Linked DNA regions of Homo sapiens: region 1 is linked to region 2. The links come from fine-mapping of genetic effects on gene expression. A gene starts in region 2. The other region holds a variant in brackets. All regions are shown on one strand. Distances are between the middles of the regions.

Region 1 (5,385 bases), 110 kb after region 2:
GGATAAAACAAATACAAAAATGACTTCGGATTAATCAGAAATAAACAACCTGGTTCCAATCTCCATTTCTTAGCAGAGAACACAATAAATTCTTTTCCTCACATTACTTCAAATTCTTATTTTAACACAGCTATTCAAAATGGGTTATTGTAAGACGAAATAGGTTGGTGCAAAAGTAATTGCAGTTTTTGCCATTTTAAAAATAGTAAAAACCACAGTTATTTTTGTACCCAACCTAATAACAAACATTCTGAAAATGAAAACTCTCCTAAAATCTCTGGAACTAAAACAACAAAGAAAGTATTTGTCATCAGTTGATAGCCATTGGGTTATTTCATAAGTATTTCAATTAAATAATCACAGTGAGTTACATTTTAAAACTTACATCTTGTTCAATAATTGAAGTTAGATTTCTGAAACATAGTATATTTGTAATTAGGGTCACGTTACTCATAAAAAATTTTATGTAGTGTTAAGGGACACCTTTTGGCATTATCTAGCTAGAAAATTATTTGGTTATTTTGCTATTTAGCTTATCTTGCAACAGTGATGTTGTCACCATATAAGATATAATAACATTTTTTTTCAATAGAAAATGACAATTATTTCTATAATTACCTTTTGGTAGAAATTAGGATATTTAAAATAAAAGACTTACCAAGAACCCAGACCATAATTAGCATTTCAGTCCATGTAAACTGGGTGGTTTTCACCCTGAAGATCTGTTTGGGATAGTCAGTAACTGTGATATTGGGCAGCGTGGTGATGCCTTCGAACCTGTCTGAGGCATTGAACACAAGCAGACCCAGGAAGATGATGAAAGAAGCTGCATGTGCTACAAACTTCATAAAAGGGCTTCGCAGAATTTTCCCCAGCTGTAACAAACCAAAGAGGAAAAGTTTGCTTCAGAAAATCTGGCTTTCACTTGTGGAGATTACAACATAGGATTAAAAAAAATAGATGAAAGGAGAACACTCAAAATTCTGCTTCTGTTTCCAAAAAGCTTTATATTATGAAAAATATTCTTTTTTAGGGGAATGCTTCCTCCAAAAATAATTTAATAAGTATTCAAAATTCATTGTTTCTAAATGTCCAATTTGTCTTAGGGTAGACTGCATTCACAGATGCACTTCTGGAAATCACAGGGCCTATACTGGTTCTTGCTCTTATTTTTACACAAAAGAATATGCAAAGTCTGGATTTTAGGGTCTGGAAAAAGAAATTTCAACTTTGTATTGTGTAATTCTTCATTGCTTTGTAATTGTAATTGAGATGTTATGAGGATCTTATAGACTCATATAAGACCTTAAAAACCCTTTGAAGATTAAAAAAATTACTACTACAGAAGTAAATTTTAGTTCTCATTTCTAAATATTCCAAAATCAAGTTATACCTGGTATGCTATAAAAAAGGCAGAAAATATTAGAACCAAGATGAATATTGTATCTGTTACTGCCCCTAATAAGGAGATACACAATAATTAAAACCTCTAAGTAGGTTAACTTATTTGAAAGTGATCTCCCAGTTGGATAATCATGTAAATGGTACAAAGGGACTTCCAAAGTTCAGTATATAATTATTTTAAGGTGACTCCTTTAAAATCCCCTATGATATAATGTCCTTAAAAGTCCCACGTTCCCGTGAAAATGAAAAACCATTCCTCCTGTCCCAAGGGCCCCCACAGTCCAAGAATTAGGTACATTTGGTAGATTTATCAAGTATGTTCTCTTTTCTACACTCTCAGACCCTGCTTTTTAACTCTGTCTGTGACCTTATAAAGTACTGAGGTTCACATTTAAGGGACTGTTAACTCCAAACAAATGTTTTTGTAGGTCTAGAACCTTAATGGGATGTCAATAAATGATGAAAGAGATGTCAGGGATTTTTGGGATTGAACATGAATGCACACAGACGAATGTCACATTTTCCATGTTAGACACAGAAGAATAAACAACACATTTACACATCACCTTGTTGTTACACAGCTGCAAAAAGGGCACGTTTGGGGGTAGCTTATCCGTAGCACATAGAAATTTCTTGGGAATTACCAAGTCTGTTTCTCCTAAAGGTCAATCTTTTAAAACTTTAAATAACATGAAAAGAAAGCAGAATGCCAATCTCAAAAATGGGACATACATGGAAAATTCTTGCTATGTTGCCTTTTTCCATAAGATAGGTGGTATACGGCAGCTCTAAACATGGGCTCTGGGAATGGCTCAACTTCCATGTTTCCCTTCTCTGCAGAGCATGCCACACTGTTAGTTGTACTTGTAAAAGTGCAGGGAAAAAAGAAGTGGACTCCAAGATGGCTACTTCAAACCTGATGGAATGTTTTAACTGATTAAGTTCCCCTAAGAGACAAACATTTCTAAACCTGAACTTTCCAACTCATTTCCTTCAGAAAAGAAAATTATTTGGGTAGGATATGATTTTTTTTATTGCATGCTCTCTCATATTATTTATAGTTTTTCATCTTTAGTGTTTACGTATTTGAAGAATCTTAAAGTAATTTTCCATGATAC[A/G]TAACAAAAGAACTTGGCTGAGTCATCAAACATGATCAAAATGACAAACTTTCTGCCTTAATTTGCATGGGCAACTCAATGATGAAATGAGATGGATGAATATTCTCACACATATATGGTGTTTGCAGAGCAGAACTCTGCCGGTGGAGACTGCTGAGCCAGAGAGATGATAGATTTCCAGGATCACTTGTAAGTGCCCTTGACTCATTTTGCCTTGAAACTACCTCTGACTTAAACAAAACCAAATTTCAGAATATAAAAACAGGATTAAAGGATCTCAGCACAGCTCCTTCTCTCTGGCAGTGCCTGTAATAACTGGCATGAATAGTATTCCTTTCCACATCTTGCTAGGGGATCTCTTGGGCACAACTAAATTGATTTTACATTGGAAAGTTGAGAGGAGAATAAAGGTACTAACCAAAATGATCCAAGCAAAACCAAATAAACAATCTAAAAAAATCTAAAACCCCTGAACCTAAATCCTACATTTTTAAGAACTGTCTGAATTAACAAAGGGCTAGGGGAACCTGACATGCATTTTCTTGAAGACTTTGGATACCACTGCTGTTCTCAACTGTGCTTCGCACACTTAACCTTGGATTTCTTCTGACAGGTCCAAATGGGTTGCCCTTCTAGTTCCCAGCGTAACTGTTTCTTGGTACTACTGCAGCAGTGCTCTCCATTCCCCGGTCTGTTCACAGGCCAGCCCAGTCGACACTCTACTTATTAAGCCGTCAATAAAATCAGTACAAGGGCTACTTCACTCAAGCAGCTTTTCCTTCTCTGTCTACCATGAGGATTTTATCTTAAAAGCCTAAGTACTTTATGCCTGCAAATGTGGTATATCCCACTGGTACCAAATCCTTTTTCATCCCTTATTTGAATTGATCCAGTAATTAAAAAGGAGAATCTGTGTTCTTGAATCAATTAACATTCAGGGTAAAACTGATAAGATTCTTAAGCATGAAGCTTTTTATTTTTTTATCCCAAAGAGACACAGTACACCACCACAGAGGAAATAGATGTAGAAAGCAAGTACCCTGCTGCAAGGTGCGATCCAGTAGCCAATGGCCAGGAATGGAAGGCCCAGGGCCACGACCAGCACAACGAGACACTTGATAGCTATGGTCTGCTCCCTTAGGCCTGAGAGGTTCTCATACCAGATCGTCAAGAGCTGCTGCTGGCAGTTGGGATGAGCCACAAACTATTGGGAGAGAGAGAGTTTGAGAAGGGGAGAGAAAGGTAAGTTACCATACCATTGTCAATAGCTCAACTATTAAATACACATGCATCCTAAAGATATTAAAGCATATTTTTTCTAGCATATTGGTACTGGAAGGTTCTGGTAATATTCTTCTTAGCTTTCCCTCCATTTTTCAAAATTGTTTCAGAACTAATAGAAGAATTAGAATGGAAATGAGAAGGTAAAATTGGTGGTGTCCTTAATCACAGTTCTTTTTGATAGAAACCCTCCATGATTCACAGATTTCTCTGTGGAATCTGGGTGACATCTGGCTTCTTTTGTAAAAATGTGTCCCATCTTGCTGTTGGCCAGCTTACTTGCATTCAGTTCAAAATGGAAAAGAAGAAAAGTTACTTGGTTTATTGTAGGCTATAGCTAAAAGAGAAATGTGTGAAGTTTCGCGAGCAACCCCTAAAATGCTACATACAAAAAAATGCATAATGCACCCTTTGTGTAATTATGTACTATTACTGCAAATCTGTAAAAGGCCTGAAAAATAATCAATTGAACTTGCAAGTATTATGCTGGGTCTACACATGCACTTCTTCCAGGAACTGGCACCAAATGCCACTTCCCTCCCGTCCTCTTTTTTATTGCTTCCTGTATCAAAAGGTCAAAAGAACATGACTATTTATCTTCAGCAGTTCTTTAATAAATACAATTCTAATCAGGAAAAATGAGCAAATTATACTTATTTCAGCCCAGCCATTTGATTTTTTTTTTCCCGTTTGATTTTGTTAAGTTATCTGCCTGCATCATTTAGAAGGACTGGGATTTCTTTAAAGCCCTGTTCTTATTCAAGAAGCAGAATGCATTTGTACTCAGGCCCTTGTAAAGGTCCCTATGCCAAAATCTGCCCATTTGTAGCTAGACACACCTTTTTTTGAATGGTCATATGCTCTTTGTCCAAGCTCAGGAATTCAAAAATCAACTATGAGTGACAACATATTTTTTAAAGGAGTTCTTAGCAACACAAAAATCAAGGTGTCACTGTCTTCTAAAAAACAGAATAAGCAATAACAATGAACCTGTTAAGAAACACCCATGAAATGTTTTTGGGAACTGAGAAACAGAGTAGCTGCAGTTCCTACTTGTCAAAAGGTTCCTCTTTGATCAAGTTCTAGTTAATAATCCTGATGATTCTTAGTAACTCCAGGCAATTCCTAGAGTTATTAATATTTGGCTCTTTATCAAAGCCCACCTACAAGGAAATGCACAGGTTTCCACTGACTGGTGCATAGTTTCCCATCAACAATTTTAATTAAAAAAGAAAGTCTCATCTCCCAGGACAGGCGATGTAGGTTCAATTTCCCCCAAATCCCTGCCTTTGCCCCCAGAGTGCACCCAGTGTAAAGTCCACTGATGGCTGCACTGGCAGCTGCCTCCGCATCACCATACATGCGTACTTAACGACCCACAGACAGAGGTGGTGAGAATAAATTTATGAATATTAGATTTGAAATAATTAACTGAGTTATTATGTTGAGATTCTAAGCCTCAATGTGATGGGTATTAGAAAGCTAGGCTTTTGGGAGGTAATTAGATCATGAGGGAGGAGCCTTCATGAATGAGACTGGAGCCCTGATAGGAAGAGGCAGGAGAGCTCGCTCTTTCCACCAT
Region 2 (5,385 bases):
TCAATAAAGAGAATGCACACTCAAATAGTTTGTTGAGAACTAGGTTATTTTTAGACAGATCATCCAGATTAATATGCTGATTCCAACTGATTCTTCTTTTAAGAACAGAAGGTGAGGCCAGGTGCGGTGGCTCACTCCTGTAATCCCAGCACTTTGGGAGGCCAAGGTGGGCGAATCACCTGAAATCAGGAGTTTGAAACCAGCCGGACCAACATGGTGAAACCCCATCTCTACTAAAAATACAAAAATTAGCCAGGCGTTGTGGTGCATGCCTGTAGTCCCAGCTACTTGGGAGGCTGAGGCAGGAGAATTACTTTAACCTGGGAGGTGGAGGTTGCAGTGAGCCAAGATCATGCCACTGCACTCCAGCCTGGGTGACAGAGTGAGACTCTCTCAAAAAAGAAAAAAAAAATAATAGAATGTATCACATTACCTGACACATTATCTGAACCTCTTCTTAACCTTCCAAACTTATTTTTCCCTGAAATCATGAAACAAATTTTCCTTTGGCATTCAAAAATTTCTTATAAACACAAGGTTGTAAAGTACATATATTTTAGGATGGTATGTAGATGTAAGTGGAGATGGGTCATACACCTTTGGATTAACTCGAAAATAAAAAGACAAAAGCAAGAGTGTTTAAATTAGAATATAAAAGTGAAAGTAGAAAAGAACAGTGGAAATTCAACAAAAGTGGAAGGAAAGCAAAGTAATCAAGCAGCAGTTTCAGAAAAGCAATCTGTCATGCTGAGTTTGGGCAGTTTCATGGGAAGCCTTTGCCAACCCAACAAGAAAGGAGGAAACTAACATTTGAATAGCTATCATGTCCAAAATGTTTCATCAGATGCTTTCATTCAGACCACTTAACACAGAATAATTGTTATTTCCAATCTGAAGATACAGAACCCCCAAATCAGAAAGAATATTTAGCTCACTCCAAGTTCATTTGAGCTGAACTTTATCTGAAGCCAAAGTCCATTCTCTTTCCATTACCAAGCTGCCTTGCAGTAAATAACAGGCTATTTCAACAAAGGTCTATTTCATCGCTGAAGGGAAAAATTACCAAATGGCCACTGAAAGAACTCAAGGATTTAAATGAAGAACTTATCAACCAGGAGTTCTGGTATGAAACTGTACTATAAAAATGAATTCATGTTGCTAAAGAACTTAAGTGGTTAGTACCCTGTAATCCCCTTGCCGATTTTGAAAATTAATCATTTCTGTCCACTTTCCTCCTTCTTCACAATTTCTCTCTCCAGACCATGTGGAGCTCATCTCATCTCAGTTTTTGCATATGTTACTCTTTCTGCTTGAAACACTTTTCCTCTCCAGATGGCATCAAGGGTGCTCCTGCTCAACACCAAAGATTTACTTTACTTTAATGTCACCGCTACAAAGTCACCTGTTCCTGCAACTACCCCTATTAAGATAGCATTCCTATTCTCAGAGAGCACTTAACACTGTATGAAATTGTTCTATTTGTTTAGGGTTTTTTGCCTTTTCCAAAAAGAATATAAATTCCTTGAAAGGATCTTGTCTACCCTGTTTCTCCAGCACTTAAATTATTCTTGGACAGAGTAGGCCCTCTTCAAGTATTTATTGAGTACATGGATTGCAAGTGGTACAAAGTGAGACTAAAATGTATCACTGGTAGAAAAAACTTGTGAGAAGCTACCAAAGAAGCCAGAGAAAGACTGCGTAGGAGTTACAGTGCCTACCACCTCTAAAGCAAAAGGAAACAAAATAATAATATGCAAACACTTAAATAGTGCTTATTCCATGCCAGGCACTGTTCTAAACATTTTATGTATATATTAACTCATTTTTATTCCTCAGAATAAATAGGTTTCTCACTTCCCCTGCTTTGTTTTTGTTTTTGTTTTTTTTTTGCCGGTGAGTAATGTGAAGCACACAGGTTAACTTGCCCAGGGTTATAGTAGTTAATGATAGCCTTAAAATTTGAACCCTGGCAGTGAACACTTTTTAAAACTACTATTTGATACTGCCTCTCCAAAAAAGCTGAGTGGTTGGCAGCATGGCCCCGCTAAGGCTTCTCTGTGACCGTAAAAAAAAGTCTATCGACTTAAAATAACTGGAGAGGGGATAAGAAATAAACGGTGCATTTACTTTCAGTCCACAGTAGTAGTAACATCGTTAGTTACTACGTGCGAACATTCTCCATTCTCATCAACTTCTCAGATCCCACAAGATTTCACCTTTGGCCACAAAAACATCCCATTTCACCAATTTATCTTTCTCCCCCAACCCTTATGCCGCCTCATTCCAGTGTTTGTTCATTTAATCTGCTCCAAATCCTGCATCTGCGGCTTTCCAGGGACCAATGTCAACTCATCTGTGAAATTGCAGAAGTACATGTCTAGTCTCCACCCCGTGAGAGGACTGAGCAAAGGGTGAAGTGTGCGAGCGGTCTACTGATAATAATTTCTATCACTCTCATGGTTATTTTAAGTATCCTTTTCTCCTCTGCACTTTATGAGAAAAGAAACGGAACTTCACGTTCAGAAACGGCCTCCCAAAGCCGCAATGGCTTCTCGCAGCTCGCTGGCCTTCCCCAATCACGCTTTGAGTCTGCGCAGTAGCTGCAGCCCAAGCCATTTCCCATTTTTCCGCCGCCGCGCCTTGATGACGTAATTTTCCTGCGCCTCGGGGCGAGCAGCGGCGCGCAAGGAAAGATCGGGTTCCGTTTTTCCCGCGGATTCTGGTGCCTGTGGGGCCGGTGACCCAACACCATGAAGGAAACGCCACTCTCAAACTGCGAACGCCGCTTCCTACTCCGTGCCATCGAAGAGAAGAAGGTATGGTTTGGTGCCCGCAGAATTGCGCGCTGCGTGGGCGCTCGGGTCTCAAGGTGTGGACTGATACCTGGCCCGCCTGGGCCCGGGGAGCTACTAGGGGAACGACCGGCACGTTCACCCCATCCCTCAGGCTTTATTTATTTTTTTTCGACAGGTTCTTTTCAAGGCTCCAGTCACCGCAGCAGTTGTCCATGCTGTAGTTTCCACTTTCCTGTATGGGCGGGCTGGTTAGGATTCCACTTTCCCCCAAGTGCTTAGCCCAGGGCCAGACAAAAAGTAGTTGCTTAAGAAATACTTGTTGAAGGAATAAATTAATGAATGAATTTGTGCTTACAGCGGCTGGATGGCAGACAAACCTATGATTATAGGAACATCAGGATCTCATTTGGAACAGATTACGGATGCTGCATTGTGGAACTTGGAAAAACAAGGTAACAGGATTTAAATGAGATACACATTCGGAAGGGAGAAGTTTGAAAAAAGACCTTATTGACTTGGTTGTTTATAAAGCAGCTAAGAAGTCTGGACAGTATTCTTTGTTTAGCTGACAAAAATAAGTATTTTTTTATGCGAGATTTTTTGCTTTTGTGGTCACACTTGAACTTTTTAATCATAAACGTATTTTCTGTCACGTATCACATAGTTCTTTTCTGACTTCTATAAATCGTATAGACAACTAGTAGTGATCATATGGAATTTGTTTCTCACACTAATATAGAGATCTTGAGCATCTTGTCATTAAGTGTACATCCTGCTTTCTTTTTCCTGAGTGACATGAAAATTAGGTTTTCAGATATTCATTTGAAAGTTGTGAGGCTATTTGGTCACATAATGGTGGTGAACTATGCCATGTGAAAACCTTTAAGAAATCTCAGGTTTTCATGCCATCTTGTATCAATAAATACTTGCTTTAGAGGTAAAGGTCACTGATTTTTAAAACAATCTGTGGAATAGTAAACATTGTAATAAGAAGAGAGGTGTTTTTTCTGTCGTGTTTTTAGTTGTACCAATTTATGTTTTATTTCTGTGTATATTATACTTTACATATAATTTTTATCTCCTATGATTTATTTGGCTGAGTATGATATTACTCACATTAAGATTGAAACTTGTTATCTGTTTCAGTTTTTTGTTTTGGAAGGAGAGTCTATTTGGTTAATACTTTGTAACTTTATCTTTGCAGAGTTCTTGGACAGGTTTCCTGTGAACTTGTGTCTCCAAAACTCAATCGGGCAACAGAAGGTATTCTTTTTTTTAACCTTGAACTCTCTCAGATGGCCGCTCCAGCTTTCGAACCTGGCAGGTATTTAAATCTTTTTCTTAAGTTGCTTTAGTCATAGGAGAACCTAACAGCAGTGAGCTTTTGTTTTAATACCTGGTGTTATATTTCATGACATTAGCCCATTCCTATTTTCTCCTTATAGGCAGTCAGATCTCTTGGTGAAGTTGAATCGACTCATGGAAAGATGTCTAAGAAATTCGAAGTGTATAGACACTGAGTCTCTCTGTGTTGTTGCTGGTGAAAAGGTGGGGAATATGCCCATAATTCTTAATCTTAGGATGAATACTGTTGATCATGGATCCCGGTATCTATCCTTTTATTCTCAGAACTTTAGTTAACTCAGTATTGTACTGGTTTGCTTCACTTCAGATGTTCTTGAGTGATACCCTTAGAACTTTGTGCTACCTCTCTCTCTCTGAAGGGACAAAAAGGGTGTCCCTTCAGAGGACACCCTTTTTCTTAAAGGTTTCTAAAAGGTTTTCACCCTTTATCTTAAAAGGGTGAAAATAGCAACTTAGATTTTTGTGTAAAAATATTTTATTCAAAGAACTTGTGGCTTTTTCATATAATCTCTCATTTTCTACATGAGTTCATAGAAGCAGGTAGTTTTCCTTTTTCATGCAGAACTCAAGAACAGATGAAATCCTTCATTTGGATAGGTTTATCGATTTACACAGGGCCACACCATGTCAGTGGCAGGGATAACTTTGAAAATCTTAGTCCCAATAAATTGTGCTGCATTAGGATATTAGAATTTTATTTTATTTTATTTTGTTTTATTTTTTTGAGATAGAGTCTCACTCTGTTGCCCAGGCTGGAGTGCAGTGGTGCAATCTCAGCTCACTGCAACCTCTGCCTCCCCTGTTCAAGCGATTCTCCCACTCAGCTTTCCGAGCAGCTGGAACTACCGGCGCCTGCCACCACGCCCGGCTAATTTTTGTATTTTTAGTAGAGATGGGGTTTCACCAGCAGGCTAGTCTTGAACTCCAGACCTCAAGTGATTCACCTGCCTTGGCCTCCCAAAGTGCTGGGATTACAGGCGTGAGCTACTGTGCCTGGCCAGAATTTGATTCTTGATTAGGGTATTTTGACAAGCATTTTCATCCCAGAGAAGTCATTTAGCTTCCCATATTCCATACCTAAGCATAATACTTCCTATTTGCATTACTTGTAAGGTTATTAAAAATATCACAAAACCTAAAAGTTTAATTTTTTTTAATTTTTGAAAACTTTCATTATTTTCTCTGAGGGACAGGGTGACACTCTCGTCCAGGCCGGAGTACAGTG

Direction of the effects. Positions count from the first base shown, and alleles are read on the strand shown. Sizes are in standard deviations (SD) of each study's normalised expression.
For the expression in tibial nerve of the gene that starts at base 2,649 in region 2, allele A in region 1 goes with a higher level than allele G (large effect, 0.85 SD a copy in GTEx).

The links. PIP is the estimated chance that this variant, and not a neighbour inherited with it, causes the effect.
Region 1: its variant is the best candidate, but not a certain one, in a credible set for the expression of EXOSC9 in tibial nerve (GTEx, PIP 0.51).

What each region holds. Positions count from the first base shown.
Region 1 is chr4:121,911,219-121,916,603 of GRCh38, forward strand. TRPC3 (transient receptor potential cation channel subfamily C member 3) reads right to left here. Exons shown (of 12, transcript NM_001130698.2): 4 at 3,562-3,726; 5 at 659-875. Among named protein-coding and RNA genes, the nearest start is that of TRPC3, 38 kb to the right of the region's middle. The variant A/G (reference allele first, on the strand shown) is at 2,523.
Region 2 is chr4:121,798,675-121,804,059 of GRCh38, forward strand. EXOSC9 (exosome component 9) reads left to right here and starts at 2,649. Exons shown (of 12, transcript NM_005033.3): 1 at 2,649-2,816; 2 at 3,153-3,247; 3 at 4,000-4,119; 4 at 4,241-4,343. The coding sequence starts at 2,751. RefSeq lists enhancers at 1,838-2,641, 2,450-2,719.